Homo sapiens: one gene and its partners. The protein of the gene in region 1 purifies or fractionates together with the protein of each later gene. This does not show direct contact. Each region holds a gene or a part of one and is shown in the gene's direction. Other genes may lie near its edges. The genes, in order: SLC13A3, GOLIM4 and HS2ST1.

Evidence for each region.
Region 2: the proteins of SLC13A3 (region 1) and GOLIM4 purify together in Homo sapiens (affinity purification with mass spectrometry; one large-scale study listed by BioGRID and IntAct). This does not show direct contact.
Region 3: the proteins of SLC13A3 (region 1) and HS2ST1 purify together in Homo sapiens (affinity purification with mass spectrometry; one large-scale study listed by BioGRID and IntAct). This does not show direct contact.

Annotation. Positions count from the first base shown.
Region 1 is NC_000020.11:46,616,827-46,620,480, reverse strand, and holds part of SLC13A3 (Na(+)/dicarboxylate cotransporter 3), read left to right. Parts: intron 1-3,654. UniProt on the Homo sapiens protein: High-affinity sodium-dicarboxylate cotransporter that accepts a range of substrates with 4-6 carbon atoms, such as the citric acid cycle intermediates succinate and alpha-ketoglutarate (2-oxoglutarate), as well as other compounds including N-acetyl-L-aspartate.
Region 2 is NC_000003.12:168,089,385-168,093,038, reverse strand, and holds part of GOLIM4 (Golgi integral membrane protein 4), read left to right. Parts: intron 1-3,654. UniProt on the Homo sapiens protein: Plays a role in endosome to Golgi protein trafficking; mediates protein transport along the late endosome-bypass pathway from the early endosome to the Golgi.
Region 3 is NC_000001.11:86,921,046-86,924,699, forward strand, and holds part of HS2ST1 (heparan sulfate 2-O-sulfotransferase 1), read left to right. Parts: intron 1-3,654. UniProt on the Homo sapiens protein: Catalyzes the transfer of a sulfo group from 3'-phospho-5'-adenylyl sulfate (PAPS) to the 2-OH position of iduronic acid (IdoA) or glucuronic acid (GlcA) within the heparan sulfate (HS) chain and participates in HS biosynthesis.

The DNA of each region.
Region 1 (3,654 bases):
TCAGTTTTAGCAGAATTCATGTTGCTCTGATAGGGGCTGTTTTCGAACTATCCTTTTTAGTGCCTCAAACTAGATTCTGTTCAGACATGTGATAATAAGTTAGTATGAGTTTATTTTGGTGCAAAAATTTGAAACCCATGCATAGTTTTTAAATAATACATACTTTTCATGAACTTTTTGAAGATCCCTTGTCTTAACCTCTCTGTGCCTCAATTTTCTCATTTGCTAAATGTAAATGAAAATAATACTAACCTTCCTTTCATAAGGTTGTTTAATGAACAAATAGACATAACATACTTAGAACAGTCCCAGGCACATAGTAACATTCAATAAATGTTCTTATTTTTTCCATCACTGTGTGACAGAGATATTCTGAATTTTGCAATAGCAAGGATGAAAGCACACACATTAAGTTCTATTAAAATGTCAGGTATTATTTATTGTTAGGAGGATGGAGAAGGTGAGTGTTTTAGTCAGGAGTCTGAGTTGCAAATGACAGAAACTTGAATCACAGGGACATTAAGTCACCTATCCAAGGTCACGAAAGTCATGGTGTAATCAAGCTATAGTTCAAATCCAGGAAGTCTTGCAACAAGCCCATGTTCTTAACCGCTGTGCTGTTCTGCTCTTCTGTGAACCGAGTGCTGTGAGAGCATAGATATTGGAACTGACCAGGACTTTAGGGTGGGGGTCACAGGATAAAAATGGCCTTTACAAGATGAGTCATAATTCACTAGATGAAGAAGCAGAAGAATGTTCCTGGCAAAAGGAAAAGCATGTGCAAAGGCCCAGAGAATGACAAGCAGCGTAGACTGCTGAGAGAACTGTGTCCAAGATAACAGAGAAAGTGGGGAATGTGGGAAGCCTGTACTGGGACACACTGATAAGCTTTGAATGCCATGACTGTGAGTCTGGGGGCCATGGGGAGCCAGAGGAGGTGTTTGAGCAGGGGAGTGACATAATCTGAAGTGCATTTTAGAAGTATTCCTTTGACTGCTTATGTGGAGGATTCATGAAGACAAGTGCAAAAGTTGAGAAATAGTCTCAGTGAAAGCTGATGAAGTTTGACCTTAGTCAAGGGCAGTGCAGATGGAGAGGAGAGACCTAAAGACTCAGGCTCTAATGACAGAGCTTGGACTCTATTGTATCAGATCATGCCTGGGACCTCTCTCAACTGGGTTTGGCTCAGATAAACCCCAAATCCAGCTGGAGGACATGAGCCTTTTTTTGACTCAAATACAAAAGAGGCTTCCAGCATAGGCAAGAAGGCAGTCCCTCTCCTTCTCTGTGCCAAACACCTCTCAAATCCTAGCTCGGAAAGATGTCACCCTGTCTGAGAAGGCTTCTGTCTTAGATTGGGTCTTCAGAAGGACCCTGAGACAACAATTTGACTGCAAGGAATTTGGGGGCAGTGGAGAAGGGAAACAGTGAAGAGCATGGAAGAAATACAAGTGTGCCAATGAAGAGGTTACTACCAGCAGCAGTGACTCAGCCTTACTGGGGACTTCTGGGAAATGGTATTCGACATGCCTCAGTTATCCCACTGAAAGGCAACTGAAGTTCGTGGCTAGGAGCTACTCCTGGAGTGTTATTTCTTGGCAGTCTTGGCCAAGTGTGCTTCTGAAACCGGAGAAATCTGAAGACGTCACTGGTGTGAACAGGAATGATGGGCACTGAAGCGAGAGACGGAGGACTGTCTTAGTCCATTTGGGCTACTATAACAAAATACCTTAGACTGGGTGATATTTAAACAATAGAAATATATTGCTTACAGTTCTGGGGGCTGTGAAGTTCAAGATCAAGGCACTGGCAGATTCAGTGCCTGGTGGGGCCTTGCTCTTTGCTTCAAAGACAGTGCCTTATTGCTGTGTCCTCACATGGCAGAAGGAAGGCTCTTAGGCCCTTTTTATGAGGAAACTAATCCTATTAGTGAGGGCAGAGCCCTCACGACCTAATCACCTCCCAAAGTCCCTGCCTCTTATTACCACTACAATGGGGATGAGGATTCCATGTATGAATCTGGGGGGACAGAAACACTGAGACCATAGCAAGGAGGTGCTGAGGTGTCTGCCCTTCTCAGACCCCACTGGCTGACACAGCTGCCTTTCACCTTTGCTCCATAGCTCACTGTCTTAAACTCTGTTTTAGCCCTTGTCTCTCTGGGAGGTGAATGATTTGTCTTCATGTCTGTCTCCTTGAGCAGTGGAAGCATATGAACCAAGGATGGGCTAGGCACCAAACCTTGAATGCCTAGTAGAGGGGTGGACTACAGTCTAGGAATCTAGGACCAGGGATGGGCTGGGCACCAAACCTTGAATGCCAAGTAGCGGTGTGGACTACAGTCTAGGGGTCTAGGTGTCTCATAATAGACCTAAGATGAAAGTGAAACATCTTATAGTCATATCATTTTCAAAACGCAAAGATGAGGATTGTCTGAAGGGGTCCAAGAGTTAATTTATGGTATGTCTGGGCTTCTGTGGGAATTTGAGACTATAATCTCCACCGAGGACTCATATTTACAAATTGGGATACCTGTTGGTCTGGTGAGTGGTACACAGAACAGGATACATGGGGCATTCCTTCTTGGGTCAGCAGGAAGATTTGATAGAAAGTAATTGTATATTTTTAAAAGCACGAATTCATTGTGGAGCAGGATACCAAGCATGGGTGGAAGAAAGTCAGTTTTGCGCAGAATGTGATGCAGATTTCCTGGCCCAGGGGGTGATACATGGATGTTCTTCTGCCTGGAGGCCCACAGTGGTGTGCTGCAGCCAGCTTATGCTGGCTTGGGAAATGTGCTTGTCAAATTTTTAGGAATTCTAATAGCCAGTTATTAAATACAGACCTTAATACACACACACACACACACACGCACACACACACACACACACAAGTTTTTCAGAGAGCCAATTGTTCAACATTTACCAACACACATCTGTTGTTTGAGGGATATTTGGCAGAAAGAGCCTGGGAAGGTGATTTGGGTTTGAGAAGCACTGTAGTTTTTTTTTGTTTGGTTTTTAGAGACCAGGTTTCACTGTGTTGCCCAGGCTGGACTTGAACTCCTGGCCTCAAGCAATCATCTTCCCTAAGCCTCCCAAGTACCTGGGACTATAGGCACCTGACTAAGAACTGTTTATTGGTTGGCATGGCCAGATTTACTTGTTAAAAATTTAGGCTATGTCTTAGTCATTTTCCTTGTACCAGCTTCCAGCCCAGGGCATAAAATGTGGTCAGGAATAAAGTTTGCTAAATGGATGGATGAATGAATGATAGCTTGGATCAAGCTTTTTCTCTAAGTTGTAGAAACATGTTTTCATCATTCAACAGATATTTTGAGTGCCTACAATGTGCCAGGAACTGTTCTTGGCACTGGGAACACAATCCCTGCTCTCCTAGAGCTTGCATTCTAATAGAGGAGAAAACATATAAAGCTATAAAATCTGCTTTCAGGTGGTAACCGGTTACATAAAAGAACATGAAGCAGGATAATGGGCTGGAGACAGAGTTTCATGCTGCTTTTGTACCAGGAGCCAAGACTCAAGAGGAGAGGTGGCTCCATCTCTCCAAAGTTGTATGTCTTCAGGAAGGCCCCTTTGGCTCTCTGAGCTGTGGAAACCGATTGTTCCCAGCTGATATTCAGGTTCCCAGCCT
Region 2 (3,654 bases), on another chromosome or scaffold:
AAAATATACAACTTTTGTTTTGCAGCAGATGGAAATGTTCTACCTAATTTGAATAAGTGGCTTCAAAGTCCCTTTCTTAATTTATTCTTTTGTCATTTCCTCTCTAATTATGGTGCTACAAAACTTGCAGTATAATTGTGCATGAATAATTATTTCACAAGCAGGCTAAAGTATTTTTTTGTTTGTTTTTGTTTTTTGTGGATTCACTTTTGACTTCAGTAGCATTTATTTTGGATTTCCCATGTGTAAGCCATTTAATGTACATTTTCTGGTGGTATGCAACTTTTGCTTCCCTTTTCCAAGACAAATGACATTTTACTCAACAGCACTGTGTACCACCTGCATAGATGGGCTTTTAGGACATCAGGCTCTCCAGTCTTAATACTTGTTTAGTTAGGTGGGATTGCTTGACCTGGCTTGGATTAAGATCAGAATTAATGACTTTAAAAAGAGTGGTCTTTTTAAAAATGACTCTTGAAAAAATTTCAGTAGTTTAGACCTATAATCTGATGATGTGCGTTCGTTAAGTGAGCGTATTTAGGTCACCTTCAGTTTAAGAATAGATTATACTCCATAGATTCCTTTGAAAGTGGGTTACTTGTAACCCCAAGTTAACAAGTTTTATTGTAGAAGAGCCCCATAACTAGAAGATGGTGGGGATGGCATGCAGAAAGGTCAGAGACTAGGCAAACCCCTTCCACTATAAAAATATCTATGTCTGCCTGTTTATCTATCCCTCTTAGCAATCAGTCATCTATTTATCTCCCATACTGGCACCTTAATTATACTGAGGAGTGGGACAGAGGTCACATACTGGTGGCAAAGGTAATAACAATCTTTGGCCAGCACAGTGTTTATATAACCTTTAAAGTTTTTAAACTGCTTTCAAGTGAGCCATGCTCCATTGTCTGTATCTATAGGCAGTGTTTCTCAGTCTAGACTGCCCATTAGTATCACCTGGTGGCTCCCAGACCAATTAAATAACAGTCTATGGGGGGTGGAACCCAGGCTTCAAAAGTCTTTAAAGCTCCCCTGGTGATTCCTGTGTGCAGCCAAGGTTGAGAGCCACACCTCTATAAAAAATCTTAAAACTGAGCCTTTCCGTGCATTTACTTTACTTGTTTGGCCCCAGAGACACTTGAATTTTTTATCTGAGTATGTGATTAAAAGCAGACTGGTTTCTAGACTGTAATTCAGTTCTAGTTCTACAACCTTTTGTGTGAACCTTGACGTTTTTCTTATTTATAAAGTGGAGATTAGAATAACCTATTTTATAGAGGTATTGTGAGGATTAATGAAGATGATAGACTGTAGAGCTCTTAGCACATACTTGGCATATAGTAGGTACTGCTCGTTAAAAGTTAGCTGTTATCAGAATCCCTCTTTGAGGTAAGCTGCTTTATCCCTTTTACTCTTGCCAGGTTTGTCATGGGTAATTTCAAATTTTGAAATTGGCAGAATTTGTTTATGTAGCTAACCACCTCCTTTTATTGTACCTTAAATGAACATCAAGGAATATGCAAACATCCAGTGTACTTTAATCAGAAGAAAGGACCTTCCTTGACAATTTAAACTTGGACTGCGGTTACTGATTAACTCTGTTCTGGATCATATCAGATTAGGAGAGGGTGTGACTGCTAAGGTAATAATTATGTGCTGTGAGATCTGGGAGAGAGATATAACTATTTAAATTTTTATAAAAGGCATTTAGTGTAGAGGCAAAGAGCCTGACATTCCTAAAACACAGTATTGCAATGCTTTTGGACTTCCAGGGATAAGGAGAAACCATCCAGAAAAAGTTTATGTAAGGTTTATATGTTCCTATTCCAGATGAATATGTTACAACTATTTAAAATTTTAAAAAAAGGTCACAAATGTGACGTGTAGAAGTGCAGAGTTACAAGTGTGGATTTCTCACATGCATATATTGAGTTGTGGTGAAGTCTGGGCTTTCAGTGCACCCAAAGAATGGACATGTTTACCCCACAGGAAAATTTCCAACTCTCACCCCCTGCTAGCCTCCCACCTTTTGTAGTCTCCACTTCCACTCTCTATGTCCATGTGTGCCCGTTGTATAGCTCCCACTTGTAAATGAGAACATGCTATCTTCGACTTTTCTTTTTCTGAGTTATTTCCCTTAGGATAATGGCCTCCAGGTCCATCCATGTTGCTGCAAAAGACATGATTTCATTCCTTGTTACGGCTGAGTAGTATTCCATGGTGTATATATACCACATTTTCTTTACCAGTTCTCTGTTGATGGACGCTTAGGTTGATTCCATATCTTTGCTGTTGTGAATAGTGCTGCAATAAACATACAAGTGCAGGTATCTTTTTTGTATAATTATTTATTTCCCTTTGGGTATATACCTAGTATTGGGATTGCTGGAGTGAATGGTAGCTCTATTTTTAGTTCTTTGAGAAATCCTGATACTGTTTTCCAGAAAGGTTGTGCTAGTTTACATTCCTACCAACAGTGTATAAGCATTCCCGTTTCTTTGCATGTTTGCCAACATTTGTTGTTTTTTGACTTTTTAATAAAAGCCGTTCTGACTAGTGTAAGATGGTATCTCACTGTGATTTTAACTTGCATTTCTCTCATGCTTAGTGATGTTGAGCATTTTTTCCTATGTGTGTTGTCTTCTTGTCTAGCTTCCTGTTAAAAATGTCTTTTCATGTCCTCTGCTCAGTTTTTAATTTTTTTTTTTCTTGTCAAGCTGCTTGAGTTCCTTGTAGCTTCTGGATATTAGCCCTTTATCAGGTGCATACTTTGCAGATATTTTTTCCTATTTTGTAGGCTGTTTACTGTGTTGTTTCTTTCGGTGTGCAGACATTTGTTATTTAAGTGTTTTTTGCATTGGGCTCCTCTAACACTCAGGATGGCCCACTGGCCTAAGCATGAATACATCTTGTCATTGGTTACTTCTTTGCTTTCAACCTTCCCTAAATCTACTTTTAGAAAGGAAACATTGGCCAGGCACCCTGTCTCTCGCCTGTAATCCCAGCACTTTGGGAGACTGAGGCGGGTGGATCACTTGAGATCAGGAGTTTGAGACCAGCCTGGCCAACATGGCTAAACCTCATCTCTACTAAAAATACAAAAATTAGCCAGGTGTGGTGGCACATGCTTATAATCCCAGCTACTCAGGAGGCTGAGGCATGAGAATTGCTTGAACCTGGGAGACAGAGGTTGCAGTGAGCCCAGTCACCCCCCTGCACTCCAGCCTGGGCAACAGAGCGAGACTCTGTCTCAAAAAAAAAAAAAAAAAGAGAGAAACATCTTCAGCACAGAACCAGGCTTTTTTTATTCCTTCATCTCCAGCGTCTGGTGCCTGGTAGTACCTATGTAGTACTTTTTCTTGGCCTATTAATGTGCATATATATGGTGGTATTGTGCGCAGTGAGGTATAATAGATACAGGCTGAGGCGTCAGAGCACTTGGATTTGATTTTCTGCTATCTTATTTTGCTAGCTGTGTGGTCATGGGCAAGTTATTTAACCTTTCTGTGACTCAATCTATTCATATGTAATAATCAGGATAATAGTGCTTACAAAAGGTTATCTTGAGAATCAATAGTGTTAGCTGATGTGCAGTGCTTAGAAGGGTGTAGCTTGCATTTTGGATGATTGAGGAAACATATACAACAGAGTGGT
Region 3 (3,654 bases), on another chromosome or scaffold:
AACATGTTGTACATGATAAATATATACAGTTTTGTCAATTACAAATAAAAAAAAACTATCTTGGTAAATGTTCCAGGTGAACGTGAAAAATATGTATTCTGTTGTTATTGGCTGAAGTATGCTGTAGATGTCGGTTGGTAGTATTGTTATGGTGTTTTGTATTCTTGATTTTTTTCTGCCTCTTCATCAGTTATGGAGAGGGGTTTTGAAATCTTTGATAATTGTGGATTTGTCTGTTTTTCTTGTAGTTATGTCACTTTTTGCTTCATGTATTTTGAAGTGCTGTGATTAAGTATATGCACATTTAGGCTGTCATGTCTTCTTGATGGACCAACCCTTTTTTTTATACAAGATACCATCTTTATCCTTGGTAATATTCTTTGCTCTGAAACCTACTGCTGTGGTGTTAATGTCTCCCCCAAAATTCACATGTTGGAAACTTAATCTCCGATGCAACAGTATTGGGGCGGGAGGTGGAGGGTGTTTAGGTGATGAGGGCTCTCCCCTCATAACTGTATTAATACTGTTATAAAAGAGCTTGTGGCAGTGTGTTCTCTTTTTTCTACGTAAGAAGACAGCATTTGTCCCCCTTTTGCCATTTCTACCCCCAACCATGTGAGGATGCCACAAGAAGTCCCTCAACAGATGCTGGTGTCTTGATTTTGGACTTCTCAGTTTCCAGAACTGTGAAGAAATACATTTCTGTTTTCTATAAATTACCCAGTCTCAGGTATTTTGTTATAGTACCACACAATGGACTATGATACTTACTTTGTCTAATACTAATACAGACACTTCAGTTTTCTTTTGATTAGTGTCAGGTGGTATATCTTTTCCCATCCTGTTAATATTAACCTACTTGTGTATTTATATTTAAAGTGGATTTTTGGTAGACAGCATCTAATCTTTCATCTAATTTCACAATCTCTTTTGTTAATGGAATGTTTAGAACACTTAATGTGATTATTGATGTGGTTGGGTTTAAATTCGTGAGTTGCTATTTGTTTTCTGTTTATCTTAACTGTTCTGTGATTCCTTTTTTTCTGTTGTCTTTAGGATTAAAGGGGTATTTTTAAATTCCATTTTTTAATTTGATGACTTACTAGCAGTGCTCTTTGTTGTTGTTTTTTTTTTAAGTGGTTGCTTAAGGGTTTATGGTATACATGATAGAATTTCATGTGTAGTATAAGAACCTTAATATATTACCACTTTTTTCTGGGTTCTTGCTATCGTCATTATACATTTTACTTCTATACATGAGTCCTACAATACATTATTATTTTTGCTTTAACTTATATTTTAAAAATATATAAAATGTTTAAAAATTTTTTAAAAATTTGCTGACATATTTACCATTCCCAGTGTTCTTCATTTTGTGTGTGTGTGTGTGTGTGTGTGTGTATGCAGATTTTCATGTGGTACCATTTTTTTCACTCTGAAGAATTTCTTTTAACATTACTTACACTTAAAAATATACTGGTGATGAATTCTTTTCATTTTGTGTGTCTGAAAAAGTCTTTATTTGCTATAGTGTTTGAAGGATATTTTTGTTGGGTATAGAATTCTAAGCTGACATTTTTGTTGTTTCAGTACTTTAAAGATATTGCTTCATTGTCTTCTGGCTTGCATTGTTTCTGATGAGAAGGTTGCCATCATTCTTTGTTCAACTATATGTAGCGTGTCTTTTATTTTTCCTCTTTTGCCTACTTTTAAGAGTTTCACTAGGTTTTTAATTATTTAATTATTAAATTATGTTTCTTGTGCCCTTGTATTATGTTTCTTGTGCCTGGGGTTTGTTGAGCTTCTTGGATCTGTGAGTTTACAGTTTTTATTACATTTAAACATTTTTGGCTATTATTTCTTCACGTTAGTTTTTCTATGCTGCTTCTCCTCTCAGGAACTCAAAATACACTTACATTAGACCACATGAAATTGTTCTACAGTTCAGTGATGTTCTATTCATCATTCTCAGTCTTTTTGTGTGTGTGTGTGTTGTTTTAGATAGTTTTTACTGCTAGGTCTTTAATTCACCAATCCTTCTGCAGTATGTAATCCACTTTTAATATTACCCAGTTTATTTTTTATCTCAGGCGTTGCCTCCCACTCCTCCCCCTGCCCTTCTAGAAGTTTAATATAGGTCTTTAAAAAATTATGTATCATTTCTTTCCTTAACATCCTGTATTAGCCCGTTTTGACGCCCTGAGACTGAGTAACTTACAAAAGAAAGAGGCTTAATTGGACTTACAGTTCACATGGCTGGGGAAGCCTCACAACTGTGGCAGAAGGCAAGGAGAAGCAAGTCACATCTTATGGTGGCAGGCAAAAAATGAGAAAGCTTATGCAGGGGAACGCCTTTTTTTTTTTTTTTTGAGACAGAGTCTTACTCTGTCACCCAGGCTGGAGTGCAGTGGCGCAATCTCGGCTCACTGCAAGCTCCGCCTCTTGGGTTCACGCCATTCTCCTGCCTCAGCCTCCCGAGTAGCTGGGACTACAGGTGCCTGCCACCACGCCTGGCCAATATTTTGTATTTTTAGTAGAGATGGGGTTTCACTGTGTTAGCCAGGCTGGTCTTGATCTCCTGACCTCATGATCCACCCACCTTGGCCTCCCAAAGTGCTGGGATTACAGGTGTGAGCCACTTCGCCTGGCGGGAATGCCTCTTTTTAAAACCATCAGATATTTTGAGACTTATTCACTATCATGGGAACAGCATGGGAAAGACTTGCCCCCATGATTCAGTTACCTCCCACCAGGTCCCTCCCACAACACAGGGGAATTCAAGATGGGATTTGTGTGGGGACACAGCCAATCCATATCATTCCACCCCTGGCCCCTCCCAAATCTCATGTCCTCACATTTCAAAACCAATCATGCCTTCCCACAGTCCCCCAAAGTCTTAACTCATTTCAACATTAACTCAAAAGTCCACAGTCCAAAGTCTCATCTGAGACAAGGCAAGTCCCTTCTGCCTATGAGCCTGTAAAATCAAAAGCAAGTTAGTTACTTCCTAGATACATTGGGTAAATACAGCCATTCCAAGTGGGAGAAATTGGCCAAAACAAAGGTGTTACAGGCCCCATGCAAGTCTGAAATCCAGCGGGGCAGTGAAATCTTAAACCTTCAAAATGATATCCTTTGACTCCATGTCTCACATCCAGGTCACACTGATGCAAGAGTTGGGCTCCCATGGCCTTGGGCAGCTCCACCCCTTTGGCTTTGCATGATATAGCCCCCCACTCCTGGCTACTTTCACAGGCTGGCATTGAGTGTCTGTGGCTTTTCCAGGTGCACGGTGCAAACTGTCAGTGGATCTACCATTCTGAGGTCTAGAGAACAGTGGCCCTCTTCTCACAGCGCCACTAGGTGGTGCCCCAGTAGGGAATCTGTGTGGGGGCTGCAACCCCACATTTCCCTTCCACACTGCCCTAGCAGAGGTTCTCCATGAGGGCCCCGCCCCACAGCAAACTTCTGCTTGGGTATCCAGGTGTTTCCATACATCTTCTGAAATCTAGGCTGAGGTTCTCAAACCTCAGTTCTTGACTTCTGTGCACTCGCAGGCTCAACACCATGTGGAAGCTGCCAAGGCTTGGGGATTGCACCCTCTGAAGGCATGGCCCGAGCTCTACGTTGGCCCTTTTCAGCCATGGCAGGAGG